7 linked regions of the Homo sapiens genome follow. The protein of the gene in region 3 interacts with the protein of the main gene of each other region in a pairwise test. Each region holds a gene or a part of one and is shown on either strand. Other genes may lie near its edges.

Region 1 (3,500 bases), on a different chromosome or scaffold from region 3:
TGGGTCCACATGTCACATGCTGGGGAAGGGAAAAGGAAGCTACTCACACTTTTCCCCCTACTCAGGATGCCACTTTTCAAGCCTCCAGACTGGGTGCCAGACCTAGATGGAATTCCCTGGCGTGTGTTGTGCATTTGGGCTGGGGCAGGAGAACTTAACTGAGGTTTCATTGTACCTCCACTATGAAGAGTAACAGGGCTGCACCTGCTGTCTTGTCCTTCTGCCCCTTTAATGTCAGCACTTTTGCCATAAACTTACATTTTAGGAAGGAAAATTTCAAATGCTAATACCACAGTTCAGCCACTACTTTCCTTCCTGTTCCCAGCCACTAGGTTTGTCACACTTACAAACTTAACCTCATTTGGGGAATTTGCATTTACATTTCTTGCTTAAGTATTTCTTCTGAAAGCAGTTTGTACCATAAGGTACTTGGGCAAAAGAAAGTAGAGAGACATTAGGAAATCTAGATTCCAGCCAATTCTGCTACCAATTTTGTTAGTTAAGTCATGGTGTTTAGTAGATGAGAGTGAAAGATATCAGATTTGTCCAAGTTGCCAGAGATGGAAAATGGATTCTCTCAAAATCTCTGCTCTGCCATCCCCTGCATCATTATTTTAGGGAAAGTATCATGGGAAAAGAAGTAAATGATTTAAGAAACATAGTGTGTTTGAGTTTGTGTGTGTATGTAATATGCATATGTTTTTGTGTATATGTGTTGGCGTGGATTTTCAAGACCTCGCTAGGGTCTTACCATCTTAAGTCAGAAAAACTGATAATCATCCTTTGATTTTCCTGTTCAACTAACATTCATAGATAGAGCAGCCACCTTTTGGAGGGGCTCCAGAATCACCACCTTCTGTGTGTAGAAAGTGCTCCTTGTTATTTGCCACCTTTCTCTATAGCACAATCCTGGAAAATTTGCTAGTGGTGGTTCTGGTGGGACAACTAATAGAGAACTTTGGTAAACTAATTTTGATGACTTTTTTTTCTTAATTCCATATTTTTAGTTTGATAATGCTGATGTTACAAGTTAACTTCCTTATGTGTGCCATGCACCAGAATTGGAATTAGAAATCTTTTCAGCATTATTGAGGGCCACAAAGAAATCTTTCTAAAGAATAAATAGAAAAAGACAACTCGTGTGGATAAAATAAGTAGAGAAGTTGCCTCAAAAATCACAAGTAGCCTGGTTGTGTCCAAACGTATGAAAATAATATCTAATGTAAAAAGAAAAGAAAAATCTTTCCTGTTTAGCTGTGCAGTCCCTTGCCCTATTCCTGTAGAGCCTTGTAAGATTCCTTGCTTTCTCTCCCGTTCTACATCCAGTTTCCAAGTCTTACATCTTTCCTCTGTCTCTTTCTTGGTCCATCCCTCAATGGCTGTGCTTGGAGTCTTTAGTCTTTGCCGGCCTCTAGTTTTGCACCCACCCTTTTCTCAGCCCCCTTGTATGGTACCCTCACTGCTAAGAAGATGGCCTCTCTCTGGTACAACAGTGATGACATTGTTTTCCTGATTGCCCATTGTCTGCAGGGTAAAGTCTTTATAATATGGCCCTTGACTGCTTTTTTCTTCTTCAGAGTCTTTCTGGACCCTGCAGCTCCCTTTGTGTCTGAAGCTTACAGCTTCCTCTTAACACCAGCAGTTTCCAGTTTTCCATGAATGTCCTCAGCCACCTCCCTTTAATGAGAGCACTATTTCTGCGCCATTTACTGCTGAATGCTCCTGCCTCAAGGGTCACCTCTTTCCGTGAAGCTTTTCTGACAGCCCAGCACCTTGCCTTCCCCTAGCACAGGCAAGGAGAAGCCTGGGACCCCTCTGTCCTGTCAGCTGCCCTTAATGCAGGATTGTATTTAATTGTTTCTGTGGTCACTTTGCAATTGGAATCGTATCTTACTCTTTTGCCTTTTTTTTTTTTTTTTTTTTTTTGAGACGGAGTCTCACTCCGTCACCTGGGCTGGAGTGCAGTGGCGCCATCTCGGCTTACTGCAACCTCCACCTCCCAGCTTCAAGCGATTCTCCTGCCTCAGCCTTCCGAGTAGCTGGGATTACAGGCGCCCACCACTACGTCCAGCTATTTTTTTGTATTTTTAGTGGAGACAGGTTTTCACCATGTTGGCCGGGCTGGTCTCAAACTCCTGACCTCGCGATTCGCCTGCCTCGGCCTCTCAAAGTGCTGGGATTACAGGTGTGAGCCACCACGCCTGGCCTTACCTTTTTAAATCTCCAGCAAATACCAAGAACCAGACATATTGTCAGGGCTTAAGTATTTGTTGAAGGAAAATATTATCTTATAGTTTTGCGTCGAAGTATACCTCATGGAGTGTTTTCGTTTATTCAGTTCCTGTTTTCTTACAAAATGTCTGACTTTAACTGTGTTCCTTTTAGTGCCTCCCTGCATTTAAGCACATTCCCATAAAAAAGTGATGACTTACTACTGATATTTTACAAACTTCTTTAGTGTTTAGCTTTGGTAGACTGTAACTAGTCACTGGGAAATAACTTAAAGGTATCACAAGAAATGTGATTTTTGCATCAGAGAACCATTTGATTTATAAGCAGGATTGTGTTTGCATATGATTTTACACAGGCATGATTTTAACAGTCTTTCTTGTTTTTTTTAAAAAAAAGTACAAGAAGAGGAAAAGAGGCCCAGACATACTCTGTTGAGCTCTCAAACAGTGGAACCTCACAGTGTTGTATATATTGCTATCAGACTCTGCCATGCCTTTATTTAAAGGAAAGAAAGAAGACATTTAATGGGAAGTGACAAGCTTCTTCGAATTCTCCCTCTCAGTGAGCAACTGAGAACCATGCATACTCAATGGATTTGATTTTTATTGGCAAATCCCAGGGTTGGCAGTGTGGCAGTTTAAATTTCTTTTTGTGTTTTTGCTTTCTCTCCTCAGTTGTCTCTCACTTGCAAGTCTGACATCACATGCATAAAAATATAGTCGATTTTACTTATTTATACCTTTGCACATACATGTCAGTATTCTCTATGTAATAATTCTTTACCTAGGCATCAGTTGCTCAGGAAAATTGACTTGGAATGTCTGCTCTTAGTTGACTTTACTCAGCAACAGGCAAAGGGAGGATATATATGGTGGGGGGATGGGGGTGACAAATGAGCTGTTAGTTTTATGACCCCTTGAGAAAAAAAGAGGTGATATTCGTTTAACTACATTTCAACTGTTAGGGATGCTTGTTGCCATTTTATTTGTATAGAAATTTTAAAATCCTGTCAGTTAATCTTGTCAGGATTTTGGAGCAGATTTTTAAATAGGAATATAGTGTGAAACTTCTAGATTTACTAATAGTTATTGGAGCTCTGCATTGCCGAGATATGTTCTTAATCTCTTGATGTTCTGTGAGCCATCTATACTCAGCACATGCCTAACTCAAAAGAGTTGTGGACTAGAAAATGCATACAGTATTGCAGCATCTCATCTCGAGATAGAAGGGTGGTCACACAGCCTTTTTCAAATGCTGCACCATTGGTC
Region 2 (3,500 bases), on a different chromosome or scaffold from region 3:
ATTAGCCAGGTGTGGTGGTGCATGCTGGTAGTCCCAGCTACTTGGGAGGCTGAGGTGGGAGAATCACCTGAGTCCAGGAGGTGGAGGTTGTAGTGAGCTAGGATCATGCCACTGCACTCCAGCCTGGGCATCAGAGCAAGATCCTATCTCGGGGGGGAAAAAAAAAATGTAAATCCAGAAAAACAAATGAATAAAGGAAATGCTCAGGTTTTTAAAACGTGAAAAGGTGCTTGACTTCTCATAATGCAAATAAAAATTAGTTTTCAGATTGGTGAATATATAATACATGAAATGGTGAGAGTATGGAGAGAAGACAGGATTCATCTACTTTTTAGGAGGAAGTATAAATTGAGCAAACATTTTTGTAGGCATTTGGCAGTATCTACCAAAATAAATGGTTATGTCTGTTGCTCTAGCAGATTTATTGACAGGAACTTATTCTGTATATGCACATATAAAGAGGATATACAAGAATATTCATTGTGGCATTGTAACAGTTTAAACAAAAGTTTAGACATTCACATACAAGGAATACTATGAAGCCAATTAAAATATTTTGTAGGGAATGAACCAAGGTATAAAACAGTGCCGTATAGAGTAGGATAAAGAAGAATGAGTAATAGTAACATGTATTTCTTAGAGGAAATACAAGACACTGATCAGCTGTTGTTGGGGAACTGGGAGACTGGAGGTTGGGAATGAGGCTTACTTGTTACTTTATTATTTAATTTATTTTAATTAAATTAAATTTAATTTTTTGAGACGGAGTTTCGCTCGTCACCCAGGCTGGAGTGTAGTGGCGCGATCTTGGCTTACTGCAACCTCCGCCTCCTGGGTTCAAGCGATTCTCCTGCCTCAGCCTCCCGAGTAGCTGAGATTACAGGCCCCCGCCACCTCACCTGGCTAATTTTTGTAATTTTATTGGAGACAGGGTTTCACCATGTTGGCCTGGCTGGTCTTGAACTTTTGACCTCAGGTGATCTGCCTGCCTCAGCTTCCTAAAGTGCTGGGATTACAGGCATGAGCCACCGAACCTGGCCTGCTTGTTACTTTAGACCCTTCTTATGTTTTGTTTGTTTTTTCAGGGAAATGTTTTTAAAGAAAAAGTGCCCCTATTGCCTATTTAGTGCATTGGTTTGAATAAAAAATTGTTGTTTTACTTCTGCCTTTGAATGTGGCATTTTTGGACAAGGTTTGTCATTCCAGAATATTCTTTCCCTAAATAGAGGCATTACTGTACTGTTGGAAATTAAGCCTTTGTAATTCATTTTTTGATGTAGGCTTAATTGTATGCCTGATCTCAGCAAAGACTAACCATATACTCATATAGTATTGATTTTGTTTCAACTTGTTTAGAAATATTTGTTGCTTATTTTATGATGTCGTTTTATTCCATTGATTTGCAAAGTGATGTGATTGTATTTGGTGTGAACACTTTTCTTCAGTTGTTTTCTTGAGTTGTGTTGGTAGGATCACTTTCACACCTCTCATTGAGGAGGATGCTTTGTTAATTTTGTTTAGTTAGAAGGGAAAGAAATAACCAGGCTTACAGAAACTAACAGCTGTGTTTATTTTGATCTGGACAGATTTGGAGGCCAATCACTGCCACCTTTTATTTCCCTGTGGGTCCAGGAACTGGATTTCTTTATTTGGTCAATTTATATTTCTTATATCAGTATTCTACGCGACTTGAAACAGGTATGTTACCCATAGTTGTTTTAAGCATTGTTTCTTTCTCATTTACTAATCCATGTGTTTACTTTGGAGGAATTTGGAGGGCAGTTAGCATTACAAAAAGAAACTGCATAAAGATAGTAAATGCTTAGTGACTGTGCCAGGACTGCACCAGGCACTTAGCTTACTCAATTTTTAATCCTCACAACATCCTGAGGTATAAGTAGCAGTGTTACCATTTTATAGATGCAAAAAGTAGCAGATCAGAGGTTGACATGGCTTGTCCATCTCCTTAGTGGCTGAGCTGTGTGCCTTTCATTTATTTTGAGGGTCTCACTCATTTCTTTTGCAGCAGTCCTTGTCCTTCAGTGCAGAATTGGGCTGGAGTATATATGTCTCCTAGATTGGGGTTGAAAAACATCAATTTATGTAATTAAAAGCCTAGATTTATTCTCTAATTGAAAAACTCAACTCTAAAATACAGTATATAGCCAAGATTTAATAATATATGGTAGTTTATCAGGTATGAGTACCAATGTAATATTTTATTTTATTTATTTATTTATTTTTTGAGACAATCTTGCTCCGTTGCCCAGGCTGGAGTGCAGTGGTGCCATCTCAGTTCACTGTAGCCTCTGCCTCTCGGGTTCAAGCAATTCTCATGCCTCAGCCTCCTGAGTAGCTGAGATTACAGACACCTGCCACCATACCCGGCTAATTTTTATATTTTTAGTAGAGATGGGGTTTTACCCTGTTGGCCAGGCTGGTCTCAAACTCCTGACCTCAAGTGATCTGTCTGCCTCAGCCTCCCAAAGTGCTGGGATTACAGGTGTGAGTCAACGTGCCCAGCCAACCTATGTAATATTATGGATAAGTTCGAAAAATCTTTTCGTAAAAGTGTCTTACTGAATTGTCATTTATTTCCTACAATACCTTATATGCTGTCTGAGTCACTTATACTAAAGAAACAATACATCAATACACTGTGTTACAATATGGATATAATTTTGTTAAATTTAAATGACTTTGAAAAGGCTGACTGACTTCAGAGACTTTATAAACTTGCTGGCTGTTACCTCAGGATAGAGAACTCTGAACTACCCTTAAGTGTATGTAAGTCAGTGCTCATATGGTTGAGAATTGCGAATCAGTCTCATCACTGCAGGGAAATAGTAGGATGGGTATTTGATGTCAAGTAACATTTTTCCTTAAATTGGCATTTGCTTTTAGGTTCTTTTTAAAAAGAAAGAAATTGTATTAATACAAAGTGTAAGGTCATAGACTATTATATTACTATTGGGAGGAACCTAGTTTATTTCCTGAGTTTTACCAAAAGATGAATAGGAGATTCAAGGAAGTAAAGTAACTTGGCAGAAATGAAACTGACAACTAGGCCTCTCACCACCATATTAGGGGTTTGATCTTTAAATCTACCAGAATATGTGATTTTTATTCTCCTTTGTTCCAGTTGGACCCATAATGATACTGAGTGCTTAGCAGTCTGCCTTTCTGGTATAACTTAATTGAGCATTAATTTGTTAGAGTAATTTTTTTTTTTTTTGAGACAGGGTCTTGCTCTGTCACCCAGACTGGAGTATAGTGGCACAGTCATGGCTCCCTGCAGCCTTGACTGCCGGGGTTCAAGTGATCTTCCCACCTTAGCCTCCCTAGTAGCTACAAGGATGGGTGTTAAACCGCCACACCTGGCTGACTTTTGTATTTTTTGTAGAGATGGGGTTTCACCATGTTGCCCAGCCTGGTCTTGAACTCCTGGGCTCAAGAGATTTGCCCACCTTGACCTCCCAAAGTGCTGGGATTACAGGCGT
Region 3 (3,500 bases):
CTGCACTCCAGCCTGGGTGACAGTGAGACTCTGTCTCAAAAAAAAAAAAAAAAAAAAAATATATATATATATGGCCTGAATATCAGCTTTTAGTTAAGCCAACTTCTGACCAGAAAGCTCTTTTTAAAAATCCTTTGTGGCTGGGCGCGGTGGCTCACACCTGTAATCCCAGCACTTTGGGAGGCCAAGGCGGGCGGATCATGAGGTCAGGAGTTAAGAGACAAGCCAGGCCAACATGGTGAAACCCCGTCTCTACTAAAAATACAAAATTTAGCCAGACGTGGTGGCAGGCACCTGTAGTCCCAGCTTCTCGGGAGGCTGAGGCAGGAGAATTACTTGAACCCAGGAGACGGAGGTTGCAGTGAGCCAAGATCACACCACTGAACTCCAGCCTGGGCAACAGAGTGAGACTCCATCTCAAAAAAAAAAAAAAAAAAAAGAGGGGGGGTTATTTCAGAATAAATGAATGGAGGAAAACAATGATATAGATAAAACTAAACAGATATAAAAAGTTGGGCAAAGAGGCTTTGCTGCCACCACCAGGAGCCCTGTACTATCAGCCATGGTCAACCCCGTGTTCTTTGACATCACCGTGGATGGTGAGCCCCTGGGCCGCATCTCCTTCGAGCTGTTTGCAGACAAGGTTCCAAAGACAACAGAAAACTTTCGTGCTCTGAGCACTGGACAAAAAGGATTTGGTTGTAAGAGTTCCTGCTTTCACAGAATTATTCCAGGGTTTATGTATCAGGTGGTGACTTCACACGCCATAATGGCACTGGTGGCAAGTCCATCTATGGGGAGAAATTTGATGATGAGAACTTCATCCTAAAGCATACAGGTCCTGGCACCTTGTCCATGGCAATTGCTGGACCCAACACAAAAGGTTCCCAGCTTTTCATCTACACTGCCAAGAGTGAGTGGTTGGATGGCAAGCATGTGGTCTTTGGCAAGGTGAAAGAAGGCATGAATATTGCAGAGGCCATGGAGCGCTTTGGGTCCAGGAATGGCAAGACCAGCAAGAAGATCACCATTGCTGACTGTGGATAAGTCTAGTAAGTTTGACTTGTTTTGTCTTCACCACCAGACCATTCCTTCTGTGCTCTCCTCTCAGGAGAGCACCCCTCTACCCCATTTGCTCGCAGTATCCTAGAATCTTTGTGCTCTCACTGCAGTTCCCTTTGGGTTCCGTGTTTTCCTTGTTCCCTTACATGCCTAGCTGGATTGCAGTTAAGTTTATGATTATGAAATAAAAACTAAATAACAACAACAATAAAAAGCTAGGGAAAGAAAATAAAGAATGAAAACAAATTCTGGCCTCTGCCTCTGCCTCTGCCTCTCCCTCTCCCCTCTCCCCTCTCCCCTCTCCCCTCTCCCTCTCGGTCTCCCTCTCCCTCTCTTTCCACGGTCTCCCTCTGATGCCGAGCCGAAGCTGGACTGTACTGCTGCCATCTCGGCTCACTGCAACCTCCCTGCCTGATTCTCCTGCCTCAGCCCACCGAGTGCCTGCGATTGCAGGCAAGCGCCACCACGCCTGACTGGTTTTCGTACTTTTTTGGTGGAGACGGGGTTTCGCTGTGTTGGCCGGGCTGGTCTCCAGCTCCTAACCGCGAGTGATCCGCCAGCCTTGGCCTCCCGAGGTGCCGGGATTGCAGACGGAGTCTGGTTCACTCAGTGCTCAATGGTGCCCAGGCTGGAGTGCAGTGGCGTGATCTCAGCTCGCTACAACCTCCATCTCCCAGCCGCCTGCCTTGGCCTCCCAAAGTGCCGAGATTGCAGCCTCTGCCCGGCCGCCACCCTGTCTGGGAAGTGAGGAGCGTCTCTGCCTGGCCGCCCATCGTCTGGGACGTGAAGAGCCCCTCTGCCTGGCTGCCCAGTCTGGAAAGTGAGGAGCGTCTCTGCCCGGCCGCCATCCCATCTAGGAAGTGAGGAGCGCCTCTTCCCAGCAGCCATCCCATCTGGGAAGTGAGGAGCGTCTCTGCCCGGCCGCCCATCGTCTGAGATGTGGGGAGCGCCTCTGCCCCGCCGCCCCGTCCGGGATGTGAGGAGCGCCTCTGCCCGGCCGCGACCCCGTCTGGGAGGTGAGGAGTGTCTCTGCCCAGCCGCCCCGTCTGAGAAGTGAGGAGACCCTCCGCCCAGCATCCGCCCCATCTGAGAAGTGAGGAGCCCCTCTGCCCGGCACCAACCCCGTCTGGGAAATGAGGAGCGTCTCCGCCCGGCAGCCGCCCCGTCCAGGAGGGAGGTGGGGGGGGTCAGCCCCCCGCCCGGCCAGCCGCCCCGTCCGGGAGGTGAGGGGCGCCTCTGCCCAGCCGCCCCTACTGGGAAGTGAGGAGCCCCTCTGCCTGGCCAGCCACCCCGTCCGGGAGGGAGGTGGGGGAGTCAGCCCCCCACCCGGCCTGCCGCCCCGTCCGGGAGGGAGGTGGGGGGGTCAGCCCCCCGCTCGGCCAGCCGCCCCGTCCGGGAGGGAGGTGGGGGGGTCAGCCCCCCACCCGGCCAGCCGCCCCGTCCGGGAGGGAGGTGGGGTCAGCCCCCCGCCCGGCCAGCCGCCCCGTCCGGGAGGTGAGGGGCGCCTCTGCCCGGCCGCCCCTACTGGGAAGTGAGGAGCCCCTCAGCCCGGCCAGCCGCCCCGTCCGGGAGGGAGGTGGGGGGGTCAGCCCCCCGCCCGGCCAGCCGCCCCGTCCGGGAGGGAGGTGGGGGGGTCAGCCCCTCGCCCGGCCAGCCGCCCCGTCCGGGAGGGAGGTGTGGGGGTCAGCCCCCCGCCCGGCCAGCCGCCCCGTCCGGGAGGGAGGTGGGGGGGTCAGCCCCACATCCGGGAGGGAGGTGGGGGGGGGTCAGCCCCCCGCCCGGCCATCCGCCCCGTCCAGGAGGGAGGTGGGAGGGTCAGCCCCCCGCCCGGCCAGCCGCCCGGTCCGGGAGGTGAGGGGCGCCTCTGCCCGGCCACCCCTACTAGGAAGTGAGGAGCCCCTCTGCCCAGCCACCACCCCGTCTGGGAGGTGTACCCAACAGCTCATTGAGAACGGGCCGGGATGACAATGGCGGTTTTGTGGAATAGAAAGGGGGGAAAGGTGGGGAAAAGATTGAAAAATCGGATGGTTGCCGTGTCTGTGTAGAAAGAAGTAGACACGGGAAACTTTTCATTTTGTTCTGTACTAAGATAAATTCTTCTGCCTTGGGATCCTGTTGATCGGTGACCTTACCCCCAACCCTGTGCTCTCTGAAACATGTGCTGTGTCCACTCAGGGTTAAATGGATTAAGGGCGGTGCAAGATGTGCTTTGTTAAACAGATGCTTGAAGGCAGCATGCTCGTTAAGAATCATCACCACTCCCTAATCTCAAGTACCCAGGGACACAAACACTGCGGAAGGCGGCAGGGTCCTCTGCCTAGGAAAACCAGAGACCTTTGTTCACTTGTTTATCTGCCAACCTTCCCTCCACTATTGTCCTATGACCCTGCCAAGTCCCCCTCTGCGAGAAACACCCAAGAATGATCAATAAAAGAAAA
Region 4 (4,060 bases), on a different chromosome or scaffold from region 3:
AAGCCCTCTCTACATCCAACATGACAGAAACCCAACATGACAGAAAGTATGAGAATGGTTGGAAATTGCTGAAACAGCAACAGTAAAGATTTAATGAGCTCTCAAAGTACCTCTAGATGTGCAAATATGACAACCCAATAAAAAGAAACACACACATAACCTAGAGCCTTCAAAAATCTAGATTTCTGCCTTTCCACACCTTAACTTGGAATCATTCAGGTGGGTTCCTAAGCATTCTCTCGGAGGTGAGGAATCCTCCAAAGAGGAGACTCTAGGAGGGGCCCAGGTGTGGCAATCTTCAAAAGGATGAGGGATGTCCAGAGGAGAGGTGGCGGGAGGGTGCACTTAAAACACGCGAAAATTGGAAACGTGCCTTCTGCAGTCAGTTCCTTCGGATTTTCCGGCATTTAGAAGCCAGTTCTACTCCTTCAGCCCGACCGTATCTGCAGGTCTCACCCAAGACCAAGACCCCCGCCCCCACCCCTCCTCCACCCGGCCTCGAGCCCCGCCCCGGACGCTGGACCCGAGCGTAACGGGAGCAGGTGTTCACATCAAAGGTCTGGGTCGCGAAGGCAGAGACTCCATGTGCCGCAAAAAAAACTCCACGGACAATTGGGAGACTCCTTTCAAAAAAACAAAACTCCGGAGCCACGCGACTCCGCGCTCAGGGGGCGTGGGTACGGCCCACCACGAGGGCAGGGCTCGGCGCCAGCTCTCGGCAAAACTAACAATATTTGTTAGGCCCTAAACAAAAAGGCCCTAACAGCGATAAATCCATTCACTTCGGGAGTGTAGCAACCTGGGACACCAAGCGCCGCCCACGCCCCAGCTACGCGCCTCAGGGACACATCGATTGAGGCGCGGCTACTTTCGCGCACGCGCCTTGCATGCCCGTGCTTCGCCCTTACAGCAGAGCGCCTAAAACCGCTACGGTGGCTCTGCTGGGGACAAATTATTCACGTCCCACTGTTCTGCAAACCCAATCCGGGAGGTATGACCTGGCTGGGACAGTTTAGGAAGATGGCCACGAAGGCACCTGGGGGAGTAGATATATGTTTTTGAGAATGAGAGGAGTAAATCGCTGGACGACCATGAGCAGGAAGAAAATTAGGCCTCCACCTCCCAACCAGTGGCCCTGAGTTGGCAACTTAGACAGCGCGCGCCAGCGCCAGGAGCCCCGCCTTGGGGGCGTGGCCGCGCGCTGGTCGGCTGGGGCGGGGCCTGCTTCTGGCCTCATCTAGCCCCGCCCCAGGCGAGGGCGCCGCACCCACACCGCGCTGCGCAGTTTTGTTCTGCTCCAGCTGTTCGAAGGTGATCCAGGTGAGTGCTAGCACCTGCGGGCAGCCACGAGCACCGGGCCGCCGGGGGCACTTCAGCCTTTGCGCAGGGCACTCCCATATTTCAGCCTATGCGAGCTGAATAGAGACCCGCTGTCTCTAACCTCCCCCCACCCTTATCAGTAAATTAGCGATCTGAATTTCCACCCTCTCTGCTCTCCCCTTGCCTTGCATCTTTTCCCTGGTGGAGTGGGTTGGGAGCGTCTAAGCGAGGCCCGACCTATTTATGTGTAACTCAGGAAAATTCTCAAGGTCAACCCTTCCTCCATTCCTTCCTTTCCTCTCCTGCTGTCCCCGGGCTCTGCAGTCTGGGGGCACCTTTCTGCCTTCCGGAGACCACCCGACCTTGCCCTCTGCTGTTCCGGCGCAGAGGATGGCGAGCCGGACACTGCCGGGGGAGTGGTTGTGCAGGCCTGATCAGTAACACTGGTTTCAGAAGTGGCCTGTGAGCAATGCACCCGCTGCGGTGGGGATGTGTTGCTAGGGACGGTCGGGAGAGCCTCTGAAGGAATTGTGTTTGTTTTCCTCCTGCCTCTTAGAATCGTTTGTCCATTTGTACTGGGAAGGTGGTCATTTCCTACCGCTGACTTAGAGCAAGAGACGCCTCTAGGCGGGTGGGGGACTCTTCAGGTTCTTCCTTGGATTTCAGAAAATGCCCCTTCTTTATGTGGGGTGGCAGCACGGAGCCGTAGGGCTACAGTAGTGGGGCAGTTGCAGGGCGGTGGAAGGCGCTGGAGACTCCTTAGTGAGTCATTCCCCGAAGTTGTGGCTTCTGCTGATACTTTCCTTGAGAGTCACGAGTTTACAAGCTACATAATAGCGTCGGGGGCAAGTAAGTGTGGAAGACGAGGTAAAGGAAAAGCAGATACTAGGATGGGTAGAAGGAGAGGCAGGGGTTAGAACTTTAATTCCTTCCCTGGGGACAGGAGATGCCCTGGAGGGGAAGGCGCTTCCGGCTCTGCAGGTATGTGCTGTTGGGCCTAGGTGTGGTCCTGCGGAATTGCTGCAGATTTTAGATTGCTGGTGGGTAGGAGCTGCAGCGCTTCTCTTGGGAAATCTGTAGATCACCTGGAGCCAGCAGTTCTGGGAGGCACCCCAGGTTATTGGTCAGAGTTACAGGCTATATTTTATTTCAGTGAATTCAGAGAGCACATTGAGTCAGATCAAGAATGTTTATTCTCATAGGAGATGAATTTAAGGAGTTAAAACTAACATATAAAATAGAAACAAATACTTTCATCCCTGGGAAGACTTTCCGTTAAGCTTCCCTCCTGACACAATGTTACGGAAATAGAAAACTTTGTCAAGTGATTTTTTTTAACCAATGTTACTATATATAAATCTGCAGGGAGACTGTCGCCAACTATAGAAACTGCGCTACAGGGGCCTCCTTAGATTAAGGAACAAAACTGGAGAAGGGCAGCCTTCCGCTTTATTTAGATTTCTTCCTGTTGGCTTAGAGTTCTGAAAAGACACAATCCTGGAAGAGATCCTCCTCGCCTGGAGATTAGCACCGAGAAGGAACATACAGGAAAGAAGGGCTTTACCCACTATTCAGAGAAATGCTAAAAAGCCCCTGGAGCAGTCTGGAATGAGGTGGATGTCAAATCAATCTGTCAAAAGCAATTCAGTGCCTACTGCACATCTATCTGTATTTAAACATATTGTGCCCTATGTTTATACTTAAATCTTCTGAATCTATATTTAGAACACCATTACCGACCACAATTGACCATGAACCATCTAGCATTTTAAAGCAATATTTGTTTCGAAGAATATACTGCTACGGTTTTTGCAGCTCAATTTATTAATGCTACTGTAAGCTTACCATCTTCCTGAACAAAAAATTTAGCAGTTAGCAGCAAGTAGATTATCGCTATGTAAAATAAAATTCCTGAGTTTCTGTCACTCGCTCTTACAGTACCTACCTGCCTACCTGCCTCTGAGGAGAAACGCTGTAATTAGGCAACAGGAAAATTGTACTATCTTTCAAATGCATTTGCAAATGCCTTTAAGGATTTTATCCTTTAGAATCATAGATCTTGCTGTTACCTTCTGAGTTATTTCTAGAGTTGATCTGTTCATTAACTGGAACTTGCGTTCTACGATTTAGTTGCCTTATTTCCACCCTTCATTTTTTTTTATTTTTTTAAAGCAAAAATTAATTTTTTTATTTTTTTATTCCACCCTTTAAAAATAAGTAAGTGATATTTTATTTTATAAATAAATGAGCAAGCAATGGGAGCGGTTGTACCACAGCTTCATTCTAAGTGTAGACAGGCATGAAAAGGTCGAACCCCTGTTTCAGGCAAAAGCCAGCAGCCTAGGTGGTTCCTTCCTTTGGGGTGGTTGGTACCCTAACGGGCATTCAGCAGCTGCTACAAATTAACTACAGTCTGCCTGCATTTCTTGTAATAGAAAATTACCAAGTGGTGTCAATGTGACTCATTCGAGATTTTTTTTTTTCCTTCTGGAAGTCATAGCTTAGTTTCTCAATGACTCTTGGTTCCTATGTAATGCCAGTTAAGGGACAGCTATATGACATGATATATAAATGAAGTGCCAGTTTCTGTGTTACTTTGCTCCTTGCAAACCTATATGCCTGAAAGATTGGAGGAAGTTTTTTCCTTCTCGTAATCTCTACTTCTTTTGTCATACTGCAGTGCTGACACTCATTAAAAAGAAAACATTCCTTGTTTGGAACTTTCCCAAAGTTTTTTTTT
Region 5 (3,500 bases), on a different chromosome or scaffold from region 3:
GATGAGATGCAAAAAATATGATAAACGTCAATGGGCAGCTCCCTCATCTGTCCATTTCTTGGACTCTTACCTACACAAATGAATTAGTTAATTAAAAGATCTGGCATATTACAAGCTAATGTTGGAAACTGTACCTGGATCAGTACCCATCAGAAATCAAAATGAGTACACTTCAAGGATTCTAGGGGCAGAATTTCCACAGACAATTCAGTGCTGCTGCTTCTCTTATTACCTTACCTTTCCCCTGCACCCCATTGTTATTTTCATGCAATTCTCTCTGCAAGTACTAACCAAAACTGAGGACAATTATTTTGAAAATGAAAATAGGATACTTTGGCAACTTAGGGTGTTAAACATATCTCTCTTCTGAGCTTCTTAGAGTTTGAGCTGAAAGACTGGAAATATGAAAAATTCTACTTTATTAAAATCCTGGCTTTAGGGCTTTTCTTTTGAATGAAACACCACCTCAGTGGAAAGTATTAATATTGAGTTAGATGTATAGGCTTTGGAACGTAGTAGTTATAATGGTACCAATCATTTATTAAATTTGTATTGTCTACTTGACACATTGTATCATTTATCTTCAGAGCAATTCTACAAGTCGGTGCTTTTATTATCTTCTACCTTATATAGGTGAGGAACTTTCTAAGGCTTAGAAAGTTGAAATAATTCATCCAAGTTTACATTACTGATGGAATGCTTATTTCAACAAGAGTGTCCACATTCTGAACCACTAAATTATGTTGTCTCTGTTCCACCAAAATTCCTAATTTCATACTGCTTGTGTTGGAAAGTGTGTTAATTGACTTCTACTTACCTGTGAATTGCTGAATGTAATCTCTGAGTAATTAACATCCTTGTTTTTCTGCCTGTAGGTCCGTGGGGAAGGTGTACAGGAGACTGTGGTCCCGGAGGAGTCCAGAGTCGGGCAGTGTGGTGTTTTCATGTTGACGGGTGGACAAGTCACCTGTCTAACTGTGGTGAGAGCAACAGGCCTCCAAAGGAAAGAAGTTGTTTCCGAGTTTGTGACTGGCACAGTGACCTCTTTCAGTGGGAGGTTTCTGACTGGCACCACTGTGTGCTTGTTCCTTACGCTCGCGGTGAAGTCAAGCCTCGGACTGCAGAGTGTGTGACGGCTCAGCATGGACTGCAGCACCGGATGGTGCGCTGCATTCAGAAGCTGAACCGAACTGTGGTTGCAAATGAAATATGCGAACACTTTGCCCTTCAGCCTCCTACAGAACAGGCTTGCCTCATTCCTTGTCCCCGGGATTGTGTAGTATCTGAGTTCTTACCATGGTCCAACTGTAGCAAGGGATGTGGGAAGAAATTGCAGCATAGAACTCGCGCGGTCATAGCTCCCCCTCTCTTTGGTGGTTTGCAATGTCCAAATCTGACTGAGTCAAGAGCCTGTGATGCTCCCATTTCCTGTCCTCTTGGGGAAGAGGAATATACATTTAGCCTTAAGGTTGGACCATGGAGTAAATGCAGACTGCCTCATCTTAAAGAAATTAATCCAAGCGGAAGAACTGTTCTGGATTTTAACTCTGATTCAAATGAGCGAGTCACCTTTAAACATCAAAGTTACAAAGCACATCATCATTCGAAGTCTTGGGCAATAGAGATAGGTTATCAAACCCGGCAGGTTTCGTGTACAAGAAGTGATGGACAAAATGCTATGTTAAGGTAGGAGACCTTTGATGCTTGAATTTGATTCACCTAAAATATTTTATAGTGCAACTTTATAAAGCTTCTTTATGATTTTCTACAAAGCGAAAATGGCAACGAGGTTTATAATTTAGGTTTTTAGAAGTTTCATGTAAGAAATTTTTAATTTCACTGGGAGGTTTTCAAAATTGCATAGTTTAGACCAAGCAGTGTTCTAGCATTCTTGTGTGATTAGTAATGCAATTATATATATAGGATAAGTCATATATTTCCACATTTTATCAAGACAGTAACTAGTATAAAAATAGATCTGCCATTACAACAGTGATAGAAGACTAAGGGGCTTCTCATAATGATAAAAATTCAAGTTCAATTTCAAATGTGGGATATGAATTATGTAAATATTTTTGTTTTTCAGAACATTTGTCCTTTAAAATTTTATTTTTGTTTTTATTTGTTTACTTTTGTTTCCACTGTTATCAACATTCTTTGACATCTGTGTTGTACATTTTTTATACTAGCAATAATACCGAAAAGTTGTTCCAAGAGTGCTTTCTTTGGCGTTATTTTGATACAGGTATTAACTTGCGCAAGCAGTAATTAGAATGACGTACTGGAGAAGAAATAAACTATTAAAGCAACAGCTTAGGTTTCAAATTTATGCTTGTTTTATTTTAAATTGTAGTCTAAAACATCATGACATAAACTCACAGAAATATATTGAAAGTAGTATTTGTTTAATTTTACCTCAGAGGGTCTTAAATGAAGCATTTGTGTATTACTAAGTTTCTTCCAAATTAAGATGCCTTTCAATAGTACTTAAATTACCAAACAACATAATGCTTGTCTTTAGAATTAATCATTCTCATCAGTTGCTGCCTTCTTGGGATCCACAGCTGACCAGGAGATGCCCAGAAGACTACCACTGTTGTTTATGAACAAAGTAATGTGATGATTGTTTTTTTTTCCATTTGACTTCACAAATGAGTATATTTTATCCTTGATACTTCATTCTGATTTGTGCCATATGAAATTAGCAAGTCCACTGAAGAGTGATTTGCAGCTTTTTATTGCCTACTTCTTTGAAGTCCAGATTAAGCAAAAGATTCATGCAATTTGTTTGAATGTGTGTGGGGTTGTGTAAATACATTGTTTTCTTAATATTCCGTACTGTATTGCTGAAGTGAGCATTACATAGAATCTTTTCATTTTGTTTGTGCATTTTTGCAGTGTTTTTCTTTTTTTAATAGACTTGATTTTTCAGATCAATTTTTAAATTTTCAGAAAAAATGAGTGAAAGTACTGAGTTCCTGTATACTCCCTGTCTCCAACATATAGTTTTTTCCTATTATTAACATCTTGCATTCATGTGATAGTTTCATAAACAAACATTTCATAGTTACATACACAAACATTGAGTGCATAACACAGTTCAAATTGTGTTCCCCTCCCCAAATTTATGTATCGAAATTCTAACCATGAGTGTAATGTTTTTAGGAGGCATGGGGCCTTTGGGAGGTAATTATGTCGTGATGATGCAGTTCTCATAGATGGGATTAGTGCGCCATGAGAGCTTCCTCTCACTCTTTTTCTGCCATTTGAGGATACAATGTGAAGTCAGCAGTCTGCAAGCCAGAAGAGAGAACCCACCAGAATGTGACTATGCTGGTACCCTGGTCTCAGACTTCCAGCCTCTAGAACTGTGAGAAATAGATTTCTGTTGTTTTTTAAGCCATCCAGCTTCTGGTACTTTGTTATAGCAGCTTGAATTGCCGAAGACTAACTGTTATAAAAATAAATACCATAGTTTGGGAATTTAAATGAGAAATTTA
Region 6 (3,500 bases), on a different chromosome or scaffold from region 3:
TCACTGCAACCTCTGCCTCCTAGGCTCAAGTGATCCTCCCATCTCAGCCTCCTGACAGTCCCACAGGCGTGCATCACCATGCACAGCTAATTTTTTTATATTTTTGGTAGAGACAGGGTTTCACCATGTTGCCCAGGCTGGCCTTGAACTCCTGAGCTCAAGTATCTGCCCGCCTTGGCCTCCCAAAGTGCTGGGATTACAGGTGTGAGCCACTGTGCCCGACAGTCTTTTTTTTTTTTTTTTTTTTGAGAGAGGGTCTTGCTCTGTCACCCAGGCTGGTACAATCATGGCTCACTGTAGCCTCGACCTCCCCCAGTTCAGGTGATCCTCCCACCTCAGCCTCCTGAGTAGCTGCAACCACAAGAGCAGAACCACACCTGGCTAATTTTTGTGTTTTTTTTGTACAGACAAGGATTTGCCATGTTGCCCAGGCAGGGTCTCAAGCAATCTGCCCACTTAGGCCTCCCAAGGCACTAGAATCATAGGTGTGAGCCTCTGCACCAGGCCCAAGAACCCAAGTCTTTTACCTTTCAGGTGAAAGGGTGGGAGTGGGGGAAGGCGGGGCCCCCAGGGACAAGGCTTCAGGGGCCAAGCAGCCATGGGCTGAGGGATGTTACCTTTCAAGAACTTTGGGAACAGCATGTCCAACACTTCGTGTGTCTCCTTGACGACGACCCAGCTCTCTTTCTTAGGACCTGGGTACGGGGGTGCAGAACCAGAAGCTCTGTGTCCTCCAGCAGGACAGAGTTTGTCCTCTCTCCTCCCCACCCTGAGGCATCAGCAGTCTAAATCTTGAGGCACTTACCTGCCCGCACCCGGTTCCTCAGCTCCTCCAGCTCTGCTGGAAGGGGTCCATCTCCCTGCAGGGCCCCAAGCATCAGCCCATGTGTGGCGGCCCTTAGGATGGTCTTGGGGCCTGCCTTCTGGTTCAGAACTACCTGTACCTGGTCTGGAGGGACCCAGAGACAGACTGGTATCAGGGAAGGGCCACCTCCCAAACCCCTTCTATCCCATCACCCTGCTTCCCCTGTCTGCCCCAAGACCTTGGCCTGGCACGGAAGGCTAGCACCTCACCCTTTCCTTTCCAATTCATCTCCTGTTGCTCCCCAATGTTCGGGCCAAACTGACCAATTTCCAAATACAATTTCCCAGCCGCTCACTGGGCTGGGTCTATTTTGCATTTCTTTAATGGCTAGTGAGAATAAGCACCTTTTCACACTCAACCAGCGGACCAGCACACTCAAGGACTTGTTTACCCAAGAGGCAACCCAGGATGGAGAGAAGGGTGGTTTCCCACGGACAGCAAAGGTCATAGCCTTCCTAAGAGTGCTGCAATGTAGCTTTGCAGTCACATTATTTGATCCTCATAAAAACACCGCAAGGAATAAGGCAGGTACTGTTAGCTCTGTTTTACAAAGCGGTGACATGAATTTCACTGGGGCATTGCAGCTGTAATTTGAACGGTCTAGAGCAACCCCCAGAACAGGCAGCCTCCAAACTGCCCAGAGCTCGGGGCCCTAGGTTGGAGGAATGAGAGGCTGACCTGGGAGGGTGCGTCTTAGGCTGGGAGAATGAGGCACACTCACTTTGTGACTGGTCCCAGCAGAGGAGGTAGGATTCTTGGTGCCCCTCAACCAGCTGCTGCAGCTCAAAGACACTGTGGGGGAGAGGACAGTGCAGTGGGGGTGGAGGACAGCAAAGGCAGGCATGCCCAACCAGCCACTGAACAGCCACCCAGTGAACTGAAATGATCCAGGCTTCACTCAGGTCCCCTCGCTTCCTCTCTCCCTCAGCCATTACCCATACACACCAAATCCATCCTTTCTTCCTGTATCCAGTCATCCAACTTCCCCATCTACCCATCCTTCCTTCACCCATCAAGCACATCTCTTACATCTGCTTCATGTTATACACCCTTTCCTTCCTCACACACCCACACCAACCCCATGTCTGTTCAGCAGCAATGAAGAACCCAGGACAGAGAGGTGGGGCCTTGCCAGGGAGGCCAGTGTGTAATCGGAGTGAGGGGAGTGTGGGTGGCGGTGGTGACGAGCGGGAGACGCTAGGCCACTCACCTGGAGACCAAGCGGTGTAAGGGGACCCCCAGGGATAGAGACGGAGCTGGCCAGAAACCTGTGGGAAGCTGGGGTCAGGATGCCTAGGCAGTGGGAGAGGTTGAGACACAGGACCCGAGACCAGGGGCAGGGTCACCTGTCCACAGCGGCTCCATGCGATTGGCTGCAGTTGGGTCGAGTACCTCTCCCCTCTGAAGGTAGTGCTTCAGGACCAGCCGGAGCCGGCCTTCGTTCAAGGTCTCCATGACCAGGGCTCGGACCGCGCGGTAGTTGGCGTAGATGTGGAGGGCAGTGAGGAAGAAGAAACATCCAAGGCTGAAGCTGGGGTGAGAGAGTGAGGTAGCTGAAGTGGGCAGAGGCCCAGCTGGGGTTCTCCTGCCCACCCTGCTTCCGGCTTACCCAGGGCAACCTGACACCAGAGGGAGCATCAGGAGGCTGACCAAGAGCCCCGCCAGGTTCACCAGCGTCTCCTGGAAAATGGCAGAGGGAGAAGGAGTTGGAAGGTGCCCCTCCAGGCCAGACTGAGTGCCCGAGTGCCTTTCACCTCATCCTCCCTGCTCCACAACCTCCCAGGGCTCCTTACTGCAATGTGGGTAAATTTTTAGTTTTTGGTGGGTGAAATGTCATTTAAAAGATGCCAGCTCGAGGTGGCTCACACCTGTAGTACCAGCACTTTGGGAGGCTGAGGTGGGCAGATCACTTGAGTCCAGGAGCTTGAGACCAGCTTGGGCAACATAGTGGGACCCTATTTCTACAAAAAAATTAAAAATTTGGTGGGGCATAGTGGCTCGCGCCTGTAATCCTAGCAATCTGGGAGGCCGAGGTGGGCAGATTCCCTGAGCTCAGGAGTTCAAGACCAGCTTCGGCAACACGGTGAGACCCATTGCATTTTTGTAAAAATACAAAAAACTAGCCAGGTATGGTGGCGCGTGCCTCTACTCCCAGCTACTCAGGAGGCTGAACTGCTTGAGCCTGGGAGGTGGAGGTTGCAGTGAGCTGAGATCACGCCACTTCACTCCAGCCTGGGCAACAGAGCAAGACTGTCTCCAAAAAAGAAAAAAAAAAAAATTAAGCCATGATTGCACCACTGTACTCCAGCCTGGGAGACACAGTGATACCCTGTCTAAATACATATGTGTATCAGTTGCTTTTTTGCCCAGGTAGGTGCCCTCGGAATACCCTTGAACACATCTTGTCTTGCAAGTCACCAGAACAGACCCACACTCAGGCACTCACTAATGTGTACTTTTTTTTTTTTTTAAAGAGCGAGGGTCTCGCTCTGTCACCCAGGCTGGAGTGCAGTGGTGCAATCATAACTCACAGCCACCTCAAACTCCTGAGCTCAAGTGATCCTACCACCACGCCTCTGCTAATTATTACTGCATTTTTTGGTAAAGATGGGTCTTGCTATATTGCCCAGGCTGA
Region 7 (3,500 bases), 2.1 Mb from region 3:
GTAGATCATTGACTCACAGATTTCCAAGCAAGCCCTCAGTGAGATTGAGGGACGACACAAGGACATTGTGAGGCTGGAGAGCAGCATCAAGGAGCTTCACGACATGTTTATGGACATCGCCATGCTGGTGGAGAATCAGGTAAGTGGCAGTGAGTCCCAGCGTGGGGAGGGAGGAGAGGAAAGCTCAGGGTCTACTGAGAACAGGGAGAAAGGGAATACTGGAAGCCAGTGAGGTAGGGTGGGAGAACCATTGGGAATTTGCATAAAGGAGAAACAGAATCCCATGGGAAAGTGTGCATTCAAATTGAATGTTGACACTTTGGGTGATCTTAACCTTGTCATTCTTGCCTGTCCCTTTGGCCTTGCAGTCGTTGCTAGTTGATACAGGGTTTGATGTGTTCTGTCAAGTACCCAGTTTTCCTGGATTTTTGATTTTTTTTTTTTTTTTAAGATGGAGTATTGCTCTGTTGCACAGGCTGGAGTGCAGTGGCGTGATCACAGCTCACTGCAGCTTGACCTCCCAGGATCAAGCAATCCTCCCAGGATTTGTCTTTTTTTCTTTCTTAAAAATCAGAGATCCGGGCTCCTAATGGTGACGTTTTAAAACAGCCTCCTGATATGGACTAGTTCACTGATGACATTGAAAATGTGATCTTTTCTCTAGTTCACAGGGAAGACTCAGGTTTAACATAAATTTTTATTTTTTTCCATTTTTTTTCTGTTTGTATTTTTTTTTAATTTTGGCACCTTTTGCTAAGGCACAGAGCAGACAACAACATGAATGAAGGAGTAGCAAAATAGCATTGACAGAAAGACTCGAAACACTCGTGGTGCTAGTTTGACAGCTTACTTTGTCCCAGGCATGCTTGCTCGGGATAGAATTCTGGATTGCCTGCATAGGGCGCTAGTTTCGCATAGTTAGATGGTTCCTAGTTCTTATGGGACAGTTAAGTGTGCCACAGGGTCATGGTGCTGTGCACTGTTGCCATGAACTTCCAGCTGCTCTGACACTTGGGATAGGAGAGAAAATTGCTTCCATAGTAGGCAGACTGCACAACCTAGTTGAAGCTCGAGCACAGCTTGACTAGTTTTTGACATTGGTTCCCTGCCGAGGGCCTGGATGCTTTCCCCCCATTCCCTACTGGCCTCTGAGACCATTTCTCAAGTCCCTCCATCCCACCTCTTCTTTTCCCCCACACTGCCTTGCCGAGGAACTGGCTTGAGATTCAAGTGGTGGTAAGTGCCTTGTTCTGTTTACAGACTGCCATAAAGTGATAGAGTTGGGTTGGGTAGTTGAGGAGAATTCCTAAAATGCCTAAGATTAATTGGAATGATCAAACTTCCCTGTCAGGAAGTGATTGCTAGGAAATGGTTGGGAAGCTTATCAAGAGACCACTGTCTGGAAGGGAAAATATAACCAAATAGCTTGGGTAAACCCAATGTCTGTCAGTTAAAGGGCCTGGAAATAACTTAGAGAAAGCAAATGTTCCCCACCTCAGATAGTTATTGAGCACCTACTGTGTGCCAGGCACTCTTCTGCAGTTAGTGAATATACTCAATTCAGGCTGAATGATGTTGATTCAGGTCTGAATGACCAGGAAGAGGCCAGCATCCTAGTGATGTCCTAATAACAATGAGATATCCTTATTTTGGTTCCTCTCCATGTGCTTAAGTGTAAAAAAAATAACAAAGGTTGTCTGGGGATATCTCAGAGTATATTTATAGGTAGTTACTAGGTATCTAGATAGTATGTTCTGGATGCCTGGTGGAGTGCTGGTCACAGAGAAGTAGTAAAATTCACTGAATGTTTCTTGAACAAGTGACTGCCACCCCACCACCAAGGACTGTGAATGGGTGTCCTATGGAAGGCCATGCATCAAGGTTTGTGGATGCTCTTCTTGCCACTGAAGATTGTAAGAAAGAGAATCCCTTCCCCGCATTGGCTAGGACTGACCTGAGACGTTTACTTGGTGTGATCAGAGTCTGTTCTTTGCAGGGTGAGATGTTAGATAACATAGAGTTGAATGTCATGCACACAGTGGACCACGTGGAGAAGGCACGAGATGAAACGAAAAAAGCTGTGAAATACCAGAGTCAGGCCCGGAAGGTGAGACTCTCCTGTGGCCTTCAGAGAAGAGAGTCCATTTTGTTTGCTGTGTCTCGCTCTTTCTCTTCCCTCTCCCTGTCTCTGTTTCTGCTGCCACCACCTCTTGCATCTGGGGAAAGGGATCCATGATTGACCGTATTGAGAACAACATGGACCAGTCAGTGGGCTTTGTGGAGCGGGCCGTGGCAGATACCAAAAAGGCTGTCAAGTATCAGAGTGAAGCCCGGAGGGTGAGCACCTTCATCTCAACTGTCCTTCGTCTCAGCTGTCTTACTAGTATCTCTTCTCCCTGGCCACCCCTACCTGTGTTCTTGAGCCCATGCCTCCCTCCCTGTCGTAGCCTCATCAACCCCTCCCTCAGCTTTTCCTAGAGACAAGCTGCCTGCCCTTCCTTCCCAGGTGTGCCTTGCATGGATCTGGCTCACAAGCTATCTCCCCAAAAACCCACACTTGAAAGGCAGTTCTGTAGGATGGATGCATGGCCCAGGTGGTGCTGCTAATCTTCTCCTGGACTTAGCTCATGAGGCTTTCAGATGTTACACTTGACTCCTCTGTTCAGAAACCTTCTCTTCATTGTCTTCCACTCCAGGCGCCCAAGCTCCGCCTCCCTTCTCTTTTTCTCTACCTTGTACCTAGCTCATGCTAACTGCTATCTATACATTATGTCATATCTGATGGAGCACCTGTTATTTCTACTTTATAAATGAGACAGTTGAGGGTCAGGGGCTCAGTAACTGGCTTCAGGCCACCTAGTAAGTAGAGGCACTGGGATTCAAGTTCAGATCCCAATCATTCTGTTTCTACCACACCACTGTATTTGCCCACCCTCTGGTGCCCCTGCCGCTTAAGGACTTCTAGGCTTCTGTGCTCACGACTGTGGTTATCCAGCTCTGGTGGCGTCTGCTTTTTAGACTTCTCTCCTTTGACTGGTTCTCTTGGGCTCTGATATTGTTGTTGTTTAGTTCTTTGTTTTTCATCCAACTTTACCTATTGCTTATGCAGGGATTTAGGGGACTGGGAAGTTATTTTACATGGTGAATCCAGGCTGGGTGGCATTTTCTGATATCCAGGCAGTGTACTGGGTCTGACAGGTAGGAGTATGGGCAAAAGTAGGAAATTAGAACTCTATCAAAAATGCCTTTACATTCCCTCTTAAAATGGAAAAAATCAGTCAGTGACTTTTTATCTTGGCCAACTGCTCCTTAGAGACCCCACGATAGTGGCTCTGATTCTATCTGTCCACATATACAGAACTGCAGTGTGAGCTGAGAGCTGAGAGAGGCCCCATATTTCCCTCTGCTGGCATTCCTAGCCTAGAAGTAATTTAAGAAATTTAAACTGTCCTAGGCTGGGTGTGGTGGTTCACACCTATAATCCCAGAACTTTGGGAGGC

The links.
Region 1: the proteins of TMX2 (region 3) and INSIG2 interact in binary tests that used the Homo sapiens proteins (3 or more experiments, as listed by UniProt).
Region 2: the proteins of TMX2 (region 3) and DERL1 interact in binary tests that used the Homo sapiens proteins (3 or more experiments, as listed by UniProt).
Region 4: the proteins of TMX2 (region 3) and MGST3 interact in binary tests that used the Homo sapiens proteins (3 or more experiments, as listed by UniProt).
Region 5: the proteins of TMX2 (region 3) and THSD7B interact in binary tests that used the Homo sapiens proteins (3 or more experiments, as listed by UniProt).
Region 6: the proteins of TMX2 (region 3) and RUSF1 interact in binary tests that used the Homo sapiens proteins (3 or more experiments, as listed by UniProt).
Region 7: the proteins of TMX2 (region 3) and STX3 interact in binary tests that used the Homo sapiens proteins (3 or more experiments, as listed by UniProt).

The regions. Positions count from the first base shown.
Region 1 is NC_000002.12:118,098,471-118,101,970, forward strand, and holds part of INSIG2 (insulin-induced gene 2 protein), read left to right. Parts: intron 1-3,500. UniProt on the Homo sapiens protein: Oxysterol-binding protein that mediates feedback control of cholesterol synthesis by controlling both endoplasmic reticulum to Golgi transport of SCAP and degradation of HMGCR.
Region 2 is NC_000008.11:123,028,803-123,032,302, reverse strand, and holds part of DERL1 (derlin-1), read left to right. Parts: intron 1-1,546; exon of another isoform or gene 1,547-1,586; coding exon 1,587-1,698; exon of another isoform or gene 1,699-2,073; intron 2,074-3,500. UniProt on the Homo sapiens protein: Functional component of endoplasmic reticulum-associated degradation (ERAD) for misfolded lumenal proteins. Forms homotetramers which encircle a large channel traversing the endoplasmic reticulum (ER) membrane.
Region 3 is NC_000011.10:57,715,593-57,719,092, reverse strand, and holds part of TMX2 (thioredoxin-related transmembrane protein 2 isoform 1 precursor), read right to left. Parts: intron 1,245-3,500; exon of another isoform or gene 527-1,244; intron 1-526.
Region 4 is NC_000001.11:165,629,974-165,634,033, forward strand, and holds the start of MGST3 (glutathione S-transferase 3, mitochondrial), read left to right. Parts: upstream 1-1,260; 5' UTR 1,261-1,320; intron 1,321-2,257; exon of another isoform or gene 2,258-2,266; coding exon of another isoform or gene 2,267-2,301; intron 2,302-4,060. UniProt on the Homo sapiens protein: Displays both glutathione S-transferase and glutathione peroxidase activities toward oxyeicosanoids, as part of cellular detoxification as well as synthesis of bioactive metabolites.
Region 5 is NC_000002.12:137,055,545-137,059,044, forward strand, and holds part of THSD7B (thrombospondin type-1 domain-containing protein 7B precursor), read left to right. Parts: intron 1-875; coding exon 876-1,686; intron 1,687-3,500.
Region 6 is NC_000016.10:31,491,392-31,494,891, forward strand, and holds part of RUSF1 (RUS family member 1), read right to left. Parts: intron 2,546-3,500; coding exon 2,475-2,545; intron 2,397-2,474; coding exon 2,212-2,396; intron 2,134-2,211; coding exon 2,076-2,133; intron 1,658-2,075; coding exon 1,587-1,657; intron 950-1,586; coding exon 806-949; intron 696-805; coding exon 618-695; intron 1-617.
Region 7 is NC_000011.10:59,793,376-59,796,875, forward strand, and holds part of STX3 (syntaxin-3), read left to right. Parts: intron 1-4; coding exon 5-139; intron 140-1,996; coding exon 1,997-2,107; intron 2,108-2,226; coding exon of another isoform or gene 2,227-2,337; intron 2,338-3,500. UniProt on the Homo sapiens protein: Potentially involved in docking of synaptic vesicles at presynaptic active zones. Apical receptor involved in membrane fusion of apical vesicles.